Linked DNA regions of Homo sapiens: region 2 is linked to region 1. Evidence: fine-mapped QTL for protein levels in blood plasma. A gene starts in region 1. The other region holds a variant in brackets. All regions are shown on one strand. Distances are from middle to middle.

Region 1 (8,000 bases):
ATGTGTAATTTGTTGTGCTTTCTTTATCTTTCTAAATAAATAGTCATTTTAGCACCTAATTTTGTAGTTATAATTTGATACTTTTTTCCTTCAAGAGGGTCCTGCAAATTGTATAAACTTTACTCTCCTCCCAAAGCCTAGATCCACCCCTGCCTATGTAGTAGGAATTATTAACAACTCTATATTGCAGATGATGAAACTGAGACCCAGAGAGGTTAAGTGACTTGCCCAGGTACACACAGGCAGTAAGTGATGGGGTCCAGATATGAGCCCAGGCAGTCCGGCACCACATGGAGTACTCAACCAGAATACATTATTGCCTCTTATTATTTTCACATAAAGCTCCTAGCAAACTCCCTGAGACATTGGGACATTACAGATACTCAATAACTGGTGGCTTTTACTATTTTGTCAATCTAAAACTGCTTTGATAATAATGGGAATATAACTCTATCTTTAAAGACACCATATAAATTTAAGCTAACAAAACAGATAAGTCTGTAGCAGACAGTTTTTATACAAGGGATTTTCTTTTAAATACTAATTTCCCAAAATATCCTTTAAAAATACTACTATTCAAAGTGTGCGGCTAGGCACAGTGGCTTATGCCTGTAATCCCAGCACTTTGGGAGGCCAGGGCAGGTGGATCACTTGAGCTCAGGAGTTTGAGACCAGCCTGGCCAACGTGATGTATTTTTGTCTCTATTAAAAATACAAAAATTAGCCAGGCATGGTGGAGTGCACCTGTAATCCCATCTGCTTGGGAGGCTGAGGCATGAGAATCACTTGAACCCAGGAGCCAGAGGTTGCAGAGAGCAGAGAGCCTGCCACTGCACTCCAGCCTGGGCGACACAGCGAGATTCCGTCTCAAAAAAAAAAAAAAAACTAAAATGTGTTCCATGGACCACCTGCATCAGAATCATCTGCGCCCCATCCCAAACCCAATGGATCTAAACCAATGGAAGTGGAACTCAGGAAGCTGAATGTTTAATGAACACCCCAAGTGACTTTTTCCACCCCAAGGGTGAAAACCACTGCTTTTAGGAGTCATTCCACTATGGGTTACTGAGTACCCACTGTCTACAGATGGGGTGAAGGGTGAGAGGTGAAGGAACTTGAATCTAAGGTGTTACTGGTATATTTCCAATTACAGGTGAATGACAAATAACTGCAATGCAAGTTAATAGTCATATTCAGCTATATTAAAATTTGCATAAGATTTGCATAGACTTACATTTTTCAAATTAAGTTTACATACAATTTTAAAGACCATAATGATTGAGAATAGAGTGCTCATTACATTCCCAGGTTCTGTTCTAAGATTTAAGTATATTAATTGTTTCACTTTTCAAAATCCTAAGTAATTGCATCATCCCCATACAGAGATAGAGGCTCACAAACGTTAAGTAACTCCTCAGTAAGTGCAGAGCCAAGATTTGAACCCAGAATTCTGGTGCTAAAGCCTATGCTCTCAAACCCTATATCACAAAAACTAAATATAAAAAAGAACGGATTAGGGATAAAAGGTAAAATTGCAAGTTCATAGAACTTTATACCTTGGATTTTTTTTCCTGATTTAGTCATTTTCAAGATAAATAAATATTGTGCTGGGTTGAAGACAGCATGAAATCACTAAAAGAGGTCAAGCCATGTTTTTTTATGACAGCAAGTCCATAGACTGTGAAGCCTACTTGAACTTGGTATATGCTAGAGTTTAAACAGCCTTCCTAGTTCAGACACAGAATCTTTGTTTCAGTCCATCCCACACTGTCCTGTCTCCACACCCCCAAAAAAGTTTCAAGATCTTTACCCTAAATTCCTTCACTCAGCATGTCAGCAGCATGAGTCTAAGACCATGGCCAGCATTAAGTGCTGACAGTGTTTTAAGCACTTGGGTGTCATAATGCATTCAGTCCTCACAACCCTATCATTTCTCCACATTTCACAGAAGAGGAATATAAGGCCGAAAGGCACTTGATCAGGGTCCCAGAGCTGATAAGTGACAGAATCAAGAATCAAGTGGTCCCAGACATCCTGGTACCAAGCCCATGCCTTCAGCCATCTACTAAAACATCTCCCAGTTATTGAGCGTCCACTGTATACCAGGTGCTTAACACAAATTAGCTGAGTCCTTGCAAGTTTGCTCAAAAAGAGCCGCATTCCCTGCCCTGACCAACGAGGACATGAAGGCTCTGAGAGATTAAAGGGCTTGCCCGGAACACACAACTAAAGCCCAGCCTGTCTCTGCATCCAAAGCCTGCACTTTTCCAACATCACTACGATGCCTCCTGGGATTTTATTAGCTACTCCCCCCCTAGAAGGAAGTATCATTACTACCACTTTACTGTTAAGCACATTCACAGGACAGAGAACATGAAGATAACTGTCTTCATATTTAGGCAGTTGGGCTTCAAAACTGCTCTTCAAAACAGGGGCTGGAAAAGGGAGAAAAGGTCCGCCTACTTGTATCTTCCTCCCACCGTGCACAAACACGCTGGAAGCTAAACGGCTTAAATATTTAAATGGCATGTGTGTGAAAGCACTTCTACTTTGTGACAGGGCCATGTTGCACATTAGCTCTCAATGCTATTTGTGTGAACCCGCTTCATACTTTTTAAAGACAAAAATGCTCTATTCATCATTTTATTGACATTTCATATTTGCAGGTTTTATTCGCCTGCGAGGTTAAGACATTTGAAACACAAATCCTGACAAACGCACAGACCAGCAACTCGAGGAACTCAGACGCTTTGGCTCTCGGTGCCACCTTTAAATGCTAAACCACCGGTAGGTAGTCGCTAAATGGGAAAGTCGTGTTCTCCCGGTTTTCAGGTGGGAAAAGCTGAGGCTCCCAGGAGTCTAGAACTCCTCTCATATTGCCTTTCTCCCTGGATCAACTGGGAATGATGATAACAGCAGACTGCCCCCCACGCGTGATAAGGAAAAAACCTTGTAATTATAATAACTTTTGGAGCTACCTCAGAAATTAACAACGACGAACAGAAATCTGCGCAATCAACAGGAGCCAAGAAGAAAAACTCGGCTCCGCAGGACAAGTCCCGGGCACAGTTCTGCAGGAAGCCTCAGGCCAGATCAGGCACCGCGGCTCACACAGAGGTGACGCACGAGTGACCCACAGAGAGGGACCCCTGGGCCTCTGGTGGGGGCCTGGGAGACGGTCGAAGGGGGCCCGGGCAGAAGCTCCGCGGCCGGGCCGGCGGAGGGAAGGGGGCGGCCGCGCCCGGGACCCGGCTCCCCTCGGCTCCACTTACCTGCTCCGAAGAGTGGCCCCAGCTCTGCGCCTCTTCCTGCGACCCCACACACAGGGACAGCCCCAGGCACAGCCCCAGCAGCAGGAGCATGGCGGGGCGAGGGCGCGGGACGCTCGGGGACCCGGCGGGACACGCTTTGCAGCGCCCAGGGCTCCAGCCACTGCGGGACGCTCTCGGGGCCGCCCACCCCGCGGTCCCAGCCCGGACCCCGCCCACCCCACGGACCCAGCCCGGACCCCGCCCACCCCGCGGTCCCAGCCCGGACCCCGCCCACCCCACGGACCCAGCCCGGACCCCGCCCACCCCACGGACCCAGCCCGGACCCCGCCCACCCTGCGGTCCCCTCCTGGACTCCGCCCACCCCACGGACCCAGCCCGGACCCCGCCCACCCCACGGACCCAGCCCGGACCCCGCCCACCCCGCGTCCCAGCCCGGACCCCGCCCACCCCACGGACCCAGCCCGGACCCCGCCCACCCTGCGTCCCCTCCTGGACTCCGCCTACCCCGGTCCCAGCCCGGACCCCTTCCACCCCGCGGTCCCCTTCTGGACTCCAACTCTCCCACCCCAGCCCAGACCCCACTTCCCCGCCCCAGACCTTCCCACACCCTGCCTCCCTGGACACCCCCCAAGCCCGGCCTCGCCTCCCTGTCCCCAGTCAGGACCCAGCTTCCCCAGGTCCCCAACCCCAAGCTCCGTTTCTCCACGCCCCCATTTCCCCCCACCTCCCCAGTCCCGGCCCCACCTCTCCTGTCCCTGTCCCCACCGAGGCCAACTTCCCAGACCCCACCTACAGCCACCCCCTTAAACCCGGCCCGCCTCCCTGTGGCCCCCACACCAGCCCCGCCTCCTCCCCAGTCCCCACCCCGCCCGGCGCCGCTTCCCGGCCTCAGTCCCACCAGAGCCGCGCCTCCAGCCCCCAGTGCTGGGCTAGCTCTGTTCGGGGAGAAGGCATTCCAAGCCTGCCTCGCCGCGCACAGCAGGGGCCACCTGTGTTGGCCCCACGGACCCCTCCCACACCCTCCCATCCTGCGGCTGTGACACTTAACCAAGGACCAGTCTCCTCTGTAGAGCCTCCTACTCCGTTTCTTGCCAACACCCACTGCCTCCCGGGCCCTACCCCACGCGCCCCCGCAACTCTTTCTTCCTCTCCCTCAAGGTGCAATATGCTTCTTTGCGGACTTGCTTAATTTCTGTCGCCAGAGGACGCGAGAAGGCCAGCCTGGTCCTCAGCACACAGCCCACCCCGCACCTGCCAGCCTGAAGCCGGCAGATCGTCCCCTCTGCATTGGCCAGGGACGCTTAATAGGCAGGACAAAGGATACTACCTGCAGTCTAGCGCAGGAGGGACTAGCAAGGCTGCCAGCCTTTATGTTCTAAGGAAACAGAGGAGACGAGGGAAGTATCTTGGTAGCGTGTAGTATTTCTGAGTTTCTGGTTATTAATCATGTAAGTGAGTGCCAGTATGTATCTTAGTTACAAACTATTGGTGATACTTCCATCCTGCCATTGGAAGAATTCTTACCCACCAGCCGTCCACACCTGGCCTTCTACAGGCTGAGTGCGTCTTTTTTATCTGGTGATACACATTGCAGTTGGGGCTACTTGTTTATTTCATGTTGCAAAGGATGTTTTTTATGTCTCTGTGATAATTTCATCTAAATAGGTGAGGTGAGTGACAGACCCTTTAAGGACCAAGAACAGGGAAGGGGCTAACTTCGGACCATGGAATAGAGAATACTATTCCATGCAGGTTACTATGGGGCCATTAAATAATCGTGCGACGTCTCCAGAAACATGGAGAATGTTGACAGTGTAATCTAAAGAGAAAATCACATCACCAAATCGTATCAACAGTATGATTGCAATTAGGTAGAAATACATATGGAGGGACATAACTAGAAAAAAAAAACATGAAAAATAAAAGCAGTGGGTAGGTTAGTTTGTGGTGAGATCCTCGAAAATATCTATTCTTGTTGAAATGCTCTTTGTTTAATGAATTAGGAGAGGTTAAAAACAAACACCTTGCTACTGTGAAATAAATGAAAGGAAAATTATTGTCATCAGCAGTTAATCCTTTAATAGCCTAACCACTAGTCAGCATGCAACCAATAAGAAACAACTGTAGCCGGTTATTTTTCCCTCCAGAGGAAAGTAACTATTTGTGAACCAGAAGTTGAATTGGACAAAGCCAGTTTATTTGCAATAGGGAACCATACAGCGGCCATTATTTCAACCCATGATTGCAACAGAACAGAGACTCCATCGTCTTTCCTTCCCTGCCATCCCTAACTTGAAATGCTGAAAGGGCCCATATTAAACTATTTTTGCCTTTATATCTGATCTCTTTTTTTTTCCCAAATTCATACTAACTGGGTTTTACAGCAGTCTAATGTTAAGAAAAGTGAGTTTTATTTTCATCTGGGAGGACCCTCTGATTCTACCCTAGACTGTGGTTCTAATGTGTTGTTTGTTTAATATAAAGCCAGTTTCTCCAACTGGATCTGTTCTTTGAGGACAAGCCTCTCCCCCAACTTCTAGAACTGTGCTAAATATATTGTTAGCACTTAAGGACCTTTTGATGAATGAGATTAGTAGATGGGAGGAATGAGTGTGGATGGTAGAGCCAGGCTGTGCCAGGGAGGTGGGGCTGGGCTATAGTGCAAACTTGACCGCTACCTAGCTGTATGACTTGACAGAGTTTCTGAACTTCCTATTATTTTCAAGCTGTAATAGTTCAGTATTCTATGTGACACCTGTGTATCTCTATGATGATCTTTAAAATCTAGGTAGGTGTGATAAAAATAAGACCTAGTGAAAGTTTTCCAAGACTGTCAACAAGCAAAGACAGTGATTTATATCAGCCTTATAAATAAGGGCCAAGGTGTCCCCACATACATTTGTCCTTTGATTCCATGTTTCTCATTTTACCTCCAGGAGGAGCTGAATTTCCAGTTACTGAACACATAAAATCTCAAAGCTAGAAAAGACCCTGCACGATGTCTAGCTCAATTCATTCACCAGGACCATGTGCCACGAGTGACAAATCACAGGGAAGGCCCCCGGGGTTCACGGACAGGATCTAGAGGCAGAGCTCAGCGACAAGGGACTCAGAGTCCAAGAATGAACAGGAGCTGTTTCTCCTGGGCCAGAGATGCTGCTCTGTCCACGCCACTTCTAGGAAATCATTCCCTCAAGTAACTGAATGATGGGCCAAAGTATTCCAGAATTGTCGAATCACACTTGTGAGAGTTATCCCTTTATCCTGGTCTCCTACTGGAGACTACCAATAGATGGGCCCAAAATCATGGTCAAAACAACCATGACTTAACGAGATTAACGAGTTGAAAGCAGGCTGCCTGTTTGTTTTCTTTTAAACCTCTCCCTTGATTTTACATCCTGACACCCCATAGCTCCTAAATCTAGCTATGGTTAGAGTTAAGCCACCACCCAGTTCTTTGGTCTCCACCTCCTCTCCCTCTCTCATCCTCCCTTCTGAGCCTCTGTAAGGCCATTGTTCTATTTGGGACAGCTCTTTCTCCCCATCCTTGGTCTACTCCTTTTTTATCTACTTATATGGCCTTGTGTGTTTCTCTTGGCCCCCTGACAACTGTGTAGAATCGCTACAGGTTTTTACAACCTTGGCTTTTTTTTTTTCTTGATTAGAGGGGACTACTAGGGAGGAAATGGGTTCCTTTTGACTTTGACTTGATGATTTCTCGGGAGCCCAGTTATAGCGTGTCAGGAGTCTAGTTATACCTACTTTTCATCTGCTTCACCAAACACTGAGTTTTGTCCACAGAGATTTGTGAAGGAAGAAATAGGGAATGCAGTTTTCTAATATATGATTGGTGATTGCTGAACTCAACTGTTCACAAAGTGTAACACTTACCATATTTTAATTATTGGCTTGCAGATTTGAGACCTAAATTAGACTCTGATTTCTTCATGGTCAAGGATTCTATCATTCTTGTTTTGACATCCTCAGGCTCTGACACATGGCCTGGAATAGAGTAGACGTGCTGTATGCTTGATGAATGAATGAAAAAATGTATATCTGCCATTATGTTACCCTGTGCTAGTTGTGTGTAATATGACAAGTTTTAGACAGACTCCGTGACCTTGAAGAAGTTACCATTTAGATATGAAGATGGAGCTAACAAAATGGACAAAATTTGAACTCAGTAGTGATTTCCTAAGAGGAGAAGGGACAAGATTGTGATTGTATTTGTGGTCTGGAAGGCTTCATGAAGGACGTGGAAATTAATATTTGCATGAATTTGATTTTGAAAGCCAAGTGGAGAAGAGAAAACATTAAGGAGACAGAGGAAGGAGGGGGAACAAGGGTGGAAAAGGCTTTGACAGTGGGGAAAGAACAATATAAAATTCTGAGGTTCAAGTCTGGGCAGTTGCCTGTGGAATTTGGTGGGGGGGGTGGGGGTGCTGAAAACTGGGAAAGTATAACACAGTGATCCCCAAACACAAATCTGCCAACCAGTGCACATTCCTGACCCCACTTTCTCCATCTGCTTCTGAAAGGAGAAAACTGAGTCATCATGGTGTATTTCTTTTTTTTCTTTTTTCTTTTTTTTTTAACTTTGAGACAAGATCTCTGTCTCCCAGGCTGGAACGGAGTTGCGTGATCTCAGCTCCCTTCAACCTCTGCTTCACGGGGTCAAGCAATTCTCCCTCCTCAGCCTCAACCATGCCTGGCTAATTTTTGTATTTT
Region 2 (8,000 bases), 87 kb before region 1:
AAGGGATCCCACCTCAGCCTCCCAAAGTGCTGGGATTACAGGTGTGAGCTACTATACCCGGTCTGGGTTATTGTTTATAAGTATTATAGCAAGATGGAATAACACAGCTTCCTGCTGGGGCTTCCTGTGGAGGAGGTGAGTGGTATCTCAGGCCCGCGTCCCCCACACCTGGCTGGCACAGGTGCCTCGTACCTGGCTGCGTGCCAGCTCCTCGCACGCTCTGCACCACCGGTTCGGGTCCCATGGCAGCCGACATGCCGTGGGCCTCCTCCAGGCCATCCATGCGTGGGACCGGCCCCCTCAGCTTCATGGAGGTGAAGGGAGTGAGGAAGCGGTAGCTCACAGCCAGGGCCTGGGCCCGCTGCCGCAGCCGCTCCTTCTCCGGTTCATCGTCACTTTGCAGCCAGGAGCTCAGCAGCTCCTTTGTGGTGAGGTAGCTCCAGAGACGCTCGATGTGGTTGGTGTCCCCCTCTCCATCGCCTCCAGGCCTGGGGCTTCCTGTGACATCTTTCCCTGCCTTCTGAGGCCGCACAGGCACATCTGTCTTCAGGATGATGAATTTCTTACTGTTGCTGGCGGTGACCTCCACGTGCAGGTGATCCAGCTTCCTGTCCACCAGCTTCCCCGCAATGATGATCTCCGAGCCGTTGAAGTAGTTGGGGAACAGGGTCTTGGTGGCCTGCACCACTGAGCTGGGGGGATAATCGATGCGGATGTCAGAGAGGAGCGGGGTCCTGATTTCATCGTAGAACCTGCAGTGGAAGCACAGGGAGGGAGGGAGATCAGGGCCCTGCTCTGACAGCAGGCAGGACAGTCCTAAAGGAAACTGCAGACTCTCAGGGGGATGCATCTGATTTTAGAAGCAATTGAGTCCAACATGGCACCCCACACAATATTTCTGCCAGGAGATCACTAGGCAGCAGGTTGAACACCATTGGTGAGAGGGAATGCATTCTCTCACGCGGCTTCTGAGCTGTTTTTCAACCACTCTCATGATGAGAAAAAACCTGCTTATAGTAGATTAAAATCTTCCTCCCTGAAATTTCCACCCACTGGTTTCAGTTTTGCCTCTGGAACAATATCGAATTAGTGTAATCCATTTCAACAGACATTTGGATGCTTAAAAAACAATGCTGTGCATTCCTTTAAGCCCAGTCAATCCCCAGTTTCATGAACTATTCTTCCTGTGATACAATTTCAAGATTCCCTCACCAGTCTTGGTAAATTTCCTTTGTGTACACTTACGTTTCTTAAAGGGACTCTTAAAAACCTTTTTCTTAGAACCAAATACAAATTCCAGATGTGCTTTAAGCAGCGCATTCTACTTCAGAAACCTGACTTTCGTGAGTTTGTGCGTATAACATTTGCTTGCATTTGCTTTCCTTGTAGTTAAGTTGCATGGTCGCTTCTTGCTAAGTAAGGAGACAATTAAAATTCCCTTTCAAAAGGCCTAGAAACCATAGGCTGTGGAGTTAGACTTCCATCTCTGTTGCTTCCTTGCTGTGTGTCTTGGGACATGTGACTTAACCTCTCTGAACTTGAGTTTCCTTATCTAGAAAATCAGGATGTAAACAGTACTTCTTTGGTCACCTACTAGCTGTCCCTGAAAGTCCATTTTCCCCTTCTTTCATGAGAATTGAGCTCCGGCCATCCAGCTACAAACTACATTTCCCAGCCTCCATCGAGGCCACAAATGGCTATGTGACTATGTCCTCCCAATGGAATATGGGTAGCAGTGAGATGTGCAACTTCTCAATATTTGCTTACAATCCATGCTGGCTTTCTTTTCTCTCTCCCTTTTTGCGGCTAGAAAACAAGAGTGATAGTGACTGAATTTCAATCCTGTAGCATTAAGGACAACACCTGAGGGAAGCAGAGCAATAAAACAGAAGGAGCTTGGGTCCCTGAATGACTTCTGGGAGCAGGATCTAGCCTGTTACCATTACAGGAGAGGGAAGGAAATGGCTATCTTATTTCAGCCTTTGCCTTTCATCATCTCTGTATTGCAGCTTAGCCTTTACCCTAATACACCTACCTCCTAGGATTTCTGTGAGGATCATCTGGGATGATGCACATCGAAGTTCCTGGTGTATCATAAGTTCTCATAAATGCCAGGTATCGATCATAGTTTCAGTGGGATGGCAGTGCAGCTGACTTGTTACAGCATAACTGCTTTTGCTTCTGAATGCCTTATTGAATTTCAATTCTGTTATCCAGTGTATCAGATTCTCCCCTTTGACTCTAGTTTTGAATAATTTTTAAAATGTGGAAAGCAAATCTGTGTTTTCATTTAAATCTTTCATTAAAATGCGTGGGAGGAAACGGTGGCGAATCCCAAACCGAGGACCTGTCTTTACTGCACACCTTAGGTGTCTCCATTTCCATTTATCATTAATAAATGTGCTTTGACTATGGCTATTAAACACCTATAAATCTACCCAAACCTCCCCTTTGCTTTTAAGTAGATACCACATATGCCACGATGCAGATTAAAGCACCTCACGCTGAACTGGGAGCTGGCACTTCACTCAATGAACAGCAAAGGAGCAGACTGATGCGTGGCAACATAATATCGGAGGGAAGCTATTTCTGTTTTAAAAGATCTGAGTTTTCTCCATCTCTCATTTAAAAGATCTCATTTATTCTCCACCTCAAAATAATCTGATTATTTAACAGTTTTATCTGATGGTTTTGCTTCCAAATAAAAGTATCTTTTAACTAGTACTCAAAATGAACATAACAGTACTCTGCTACTTGCTCACAGGGTAGAATAAAAGTAAACTTACTAGAAAGTGCTTTGAAATATCAGGATGTCAATGAACTATGAGAGCTCATTAAATACTTAATATGGGATGGCCACTGTGCCAGTGCTATACATAGTGTTTTTATATAGCGATTTTCTCATTAAATTCTGCAACCAACCATAATCCTCATTTTACAGATGAGAAAACGGAGGTACAGACTGTCTTAAAATCTTGCTTAGGGCCGGGTGTGGTGGCTCACGCCCATAATCCCAGTACTTTGGGAGGCCAAGGCGGGCAGATCACCTGAGGTCAGGAGTTCGAGACCAGCCTGACCAACATGGAGAAACCTTGTCTCTACTAAAAATACAAAATTAGCCAGGCGTGGTGGTGTGTGACTGTAGTCCCAGCTACTCAGGAGGCTGAGGCAAGAGAATTGCTTGAACCCAGGAAGCAGAGGTTGCAGTGAGCTGAGATCACGCCATTGCATTGCAGCCTGGGCAACAAGAGCGAAACTCCATCACAAGAAAAAAAAAAAAAATCTTGCCTAAAGTCATAAAGGAGGATCAGAATTCGAACTCTGATCTGCCTAGTTTCAAAACACATGGTGACACCTCCCATTGCAATGAGCTATGATCGTTGTCAGCAGATGCAAGGCTGGGGTGCAGCAACACACTCCTCTCTGAATTCCCACCGCAGCCACCCCTCAGCCCCTCAAACAGCCTCTCATGCCTACGAAGACAGACCACAGACCCGATGAGCTGCGAGCCTGCGTCCTCCTCCTCGTGCACGCGCCGTGTGAGGCCACAGTTCTCCAGCGACAGTTTCTCCAGCAGCCTGAAGTCCACGTCGTTGCCGATGCCAATGGTGAAGATGCAGACTTGGCCTCGGGCGGCCTCTCGGGTGTTGT[T/G]GAGGATCTTGAGGGTGTGCGTCTCCCCGACCGTGGGCTTCCCATCCGTCAGGAAGACGATGAGGGACACGCTCCGGTCTCCAATGCCACTGTGGGCCACGTACTTGTTGAGGAGCCTGATGGCCCTCTGCAGGGCCCCGTTGATGTCTGTGCCTGCAGGACACCAACACGGAACAGCTCAAGCCTCTGCACTCACCTCCGCACTCTGATTGCACTTTCTTTTTTTTGAGACGGAGTCTTGCTCTGTCACCCAGGCTGGAGTGCAATGGCGCAATCTGCACTCACTGCAACCTCCGCCTCCCAGGTTCAAGCGATTCTCCCGCCTCAGCCTCCCGAGTAGCTGGGATTACAGGTGCACACCACCACATCTGGCTAATTTTTGTATTTTTAGTAGAGATGGGATTGACCATGTTGGCCAGGCTGGTCTCAAACTCCTGACCTCAAGTAATCCGCCCACCTTGGCCTCCCAAAGTGCTGGAATCACAGGCATGAGCCACCATGCCCAGCCTGAATGCACTTTCATAGCTGCAGTTCACGCTCAACCACCCAAATGCTCACAGGAGTGAGGTGTTAAGGGGCCATCCAGAAACTTGCTAAAAGCAAGTGCATTTACTAAATGCATATAAGTGAATGGGGATTATCCCACTGTAACAAACCTTCTCCAGAAGGCATGTGGCGACGCCTTAGCTTACCTGAGCTTCAATGGCTTCTGTGCCCTCTTCTGAGAATGGCTTTGAAAAGAGCAGGAAGGTGTTGAGCATAGAAGACAGCAGGAATGTGGAGGGAGAAAGAGCCGCAGAGGGGAGGAGGGGCATGGAACGAAGAGGAGGAGGGTAGCTGCTGACATCTCAGATGCCTTCCAGTGTTGTCTAGGGCTAGGTGGAGCTGATGAAAGAATGAATTTGTTGCCTTCATCGTCTCTCCTTTCTTTGCTTCCTGTCCCTTCAGATCACCTCTGCTTGCCAGAACCCCACAGAGAAAGGAGCCATGAAATATTTCTCCTCCTGGCCACCCTTTTTCCTTCAGAGGCCCTTGTCAGCAACAGCTCTGATTAAAGTTGGAGGCCAGCCAGGCACGGTGGCTCATGCCTGTAATCCCAGCACTCTGGGAGGCCAAGGTGGGTGGATCACCTGAGGTCAGGAGTTCGAGACCAGCCTCGCTAACATGGCAAAACCCTGTCTCTACCAAAAATACAAAAATTAGCCGGGCATGGTGGTACATGCCTGTAATCCCAGCTACTCGGATGGCTAAGGTCAGAAAATCACTTGAACCCAGAAGACGGAAGTTGCAGTGAGCCAAGATCGTGCCATTGCACTCCAGCCTGGGAAACAGAGTGAGACGCGGTCTCAACAGAAAAAATAAAAATAAAATAAATAAATGAATAAATAAAATAAAGTTGGGGGCGAAAGGGAAGAAAAATTTTATCAGGAATATGTGGCTTAGAAAAACCATACGAAACAGAAAACAAATCTCAACTCTGAGAAATGATGGAACAATAAACACCAATGACATTAGCAGGCATCTGTGGACAGCAGGAGGTTTTTCTCTCCTTTTTTTCTTTTGATGATTTTCTTTATTCCTCAAATGTTTTAGAATAGATACTTCCATGGAAAAAATGGTGTGAGAACATGAGCAGGCTTCTGGAGTTCTAAATGTTCTGTTTCTTGATCTGGGTCCAGGTTCTGTTCAGTTTATGAAAACATATCAAGTTGTACACTTACTACATGTACATTTTTCTGCATGTATGTTACACTACAGGTTACTGCTTCCTTTAAAAAGAATGTTCCCATGTTTTCTTTTCTTTTCCTTCTTTTTTTTTTTTTTTTTTTTTTTAGAGACAGGGTCTCACTATGTTGCCCAGGCTGGTCTCGAACTCCTGGGCTCAAGCAGTTCTCCCACCTCAACCTCCCAAAGTGCTGGGACTACAGGCATGAGCCACCATGCCCGGCCACCCATGTATTTTTTTTTTTTTTTTTTTTTTTGAGATATAGTCATGCTCTTTCGCCCAAGGTGGAATGCAGTGGCGTGATCTTGGCTCACTGCAACCTCTGCCTCCTGTGTTCAAGCAATTCTCCTGCCTCAGCCTCCCGAGTAGCTGGGATTACAGGCACACGCCACCATGCCTGGCTAATTTTTGTACTTTTTTAGTAGAGACGGGTTTCACCATGTTGGCCAGGCTGGTCTTGATTTCCTGACCTTGTGATCTGCCCGCCTCGGCCTCCAAAGTGCTGGGATTACTGGCAGGGGCCACAGCACCTGGCCCCATGTATTCTTAAATTTACTACTTTATGATTAAAATAAATCAGACAATTTAAGTTTGGGAGCAAAATAAATAAATAAAGTTGGGGCCTGTGTCTTTGATAGGAGCTGAACAAGTATTTGTTTGGTGGATGGGGAGACAGGTGGTTGGGTGGTTGAGGTTGAAACCCCAGCTACAGTGAGGTTTCTGGGTTAGCTAAGAATTCCACTGGACTAAGCTACCAACATCCCACCATTACCAAGTAAAGCAGAGACCTTACTGTAGTGTGAACACCTATTTCCTTTGTTTTTTTTTTAAAATGGCTTAAGATAAAATCTACATACCAAAAGATCACCCATTCTAAGTGTCCAATTCATGATTTGTAGTAAATTTAGAGTTTGATGACCATCACCACCATCCATCATCCTGACTGGAGTGACTTTTCTCTACCTGCAAATTTTACCACATTTGTGGTACATATATACCATGGGGCACTATTCAGCCACAAAAAAGAATGAGATCTTGTCATCTGCAACAAGATGGATGGAACTGGAGCTCATTATATTCAGTGAATTAAGCCAGGCACAGAAAGACCATCTTCCCATGTTCTCGCTTATTTGTGGCAGCTAAAAATTAAAACGATTGAACTTATGGAGATAAAGAGTAGAAGGATGGTTTCCAGAGGCTGGGCAGGGTAGTGGGGGGTGGGGCAGAAGTAGGGATAGTTAATGGGTACAAAAAGAAGTTAGAAAGAATGAAGACGATCTAGTACTTGGTAGTGCAACAGGGTGATTATATTCAATAATAATTTCATGATACACTTAAAAATAACTGAGTATAATTGGATTGTTTGTAACAAAGGACAAATGCTTGAGGTGATGGATATCTCATTTATCTGATGTAATTATCACACAATGTATGCCTGTATCAAAATACCTCATATACCCCATAAACACATATACCTACTCTGGACCCACAAAAATTAAAAATTAAAATTAAAATGTACCGCATCTGAGAGAACCAGATCATCTCCCCCACGGCTTAACATCCTCCAGATTTTCTAGCTAAAAAAGTAGATAAGGCTATGTCCATGACCAAATGTTCATAATTCTTGCTAAGATGCAGAGCCCAAATGGAAAGAAAGTTATTTTACATTTTATTGGAATCACTAATTTGCCTTTCTTTTGTTTGTTTGTTTTTGAAACAGAATTTCACTCTGTCACCGGGGCTGGAGTGCAGTGGTGCGATCTCGGCTCACTACAACCTCCGCCTCCCAGGTTCATGCAATTCTCCTGCCTCAGCCTCCCCAGTAGCTGGGACTACAGGCGCAAGCTACCACGCCCAGCTGATTTTTTTGTATTTTAGTAGAGATGGGGTTTCACCATGTTGCCCAGGCTGGTCTCGAGCTCCCGAGCTCAGGCAATCCACCCGCCTTGGCCTCCCAAAGTGCCAGGGTTATAGGTATGAGCCACTGCGCCTGGCCTAATTTGCCTTTCTTAAGGTCCAGTCTAATTTCTTAGTGCCCCTGGATGTGTGAACAAGGATGAACTGGCATTTTTTTCTCTTGTCTCTATTCAGCAATGGTGCCAAATCTCTCACTCCACTTTAAAGCCAAGGAGAGCACAGGCAGAGGGACGGATTAGCTTTCCCGATGGCACACAGCCACCAGAGGCCCTGCAGGGATTGGTATCAAGCCCACAGCAACTGGGGCATCTCCTTCCCACTGAAAACAGACAGGAGCTGTCATCAAAGGACTCACAAGCACCAGCGAGAGGGGTTACCTGAGTGGGTGAAAATAATGGCCACATCTGATGCTTAAAGAGGACTTCCTATGTGCCAGGACCATTCTAACCACTTGAAATGCTTTAACTCACTCCATCCTGGTAACGATTCCATTGTTATCTTCATTCTACAGATGAGGAAACTGAGGCACAGAGAAGATGGAGCTGGATTCAAACCCAGGCAGTCTGGCTTCCAAATCCATGCTCACAATCCTGATGCTACACGTCTTAGAGAGAAGCAGGCTGATCTGCTGTTCACCTGCAGAGGCTAGGGCAATGCAGTTCAAGAAAAATAAAGGAAACCCACAGGGTTTCTAAGGCTTGGAGTC

What was found. PIP is the posterior inclusion probability: the model's chance that the variant is causal. Protein levels are from the aptamer-based SomaScan assay of Sun 2018.
Region 2: its variant is fine-mapped to the plasma level of the ITIH5 protein (Sun 2018, PIP 0.95). The variant lies in the coding sequence of ITIH5. If it changes the protein, the assay may bind it differently, which can mimic a change of level.

Annotation. Positions count from the first base shown.
Region 1 is chr10:7,663,531-7,671,530 of GRCh38, forward strand. ITIH5 (inter-alpha-trypsin inhibitor heavy chain 5) reads right to left here and starts at 3,436. Exons shown (of 14, transcript NM_030569.7): 1 at 3,273-3,436. The coding sequence starts at 3,362.
Region 2 is chr10:7,576,261-7,584,260 of GRCh38, forward strand. ITIH5 (inter-alpha-trypsin inhibitor heavy chain 5) reads right to left here. Exons shown (of 14, transcript NM_030569.7): 9 at 3,495-3,804; 10 at 193-752. Among named protein-coding and RNA genes, the nearest start is that of ITIH5, 87 kb to the right of the region's middle. The variant T/G (reference allele first, on the strand shown) is at 3,652.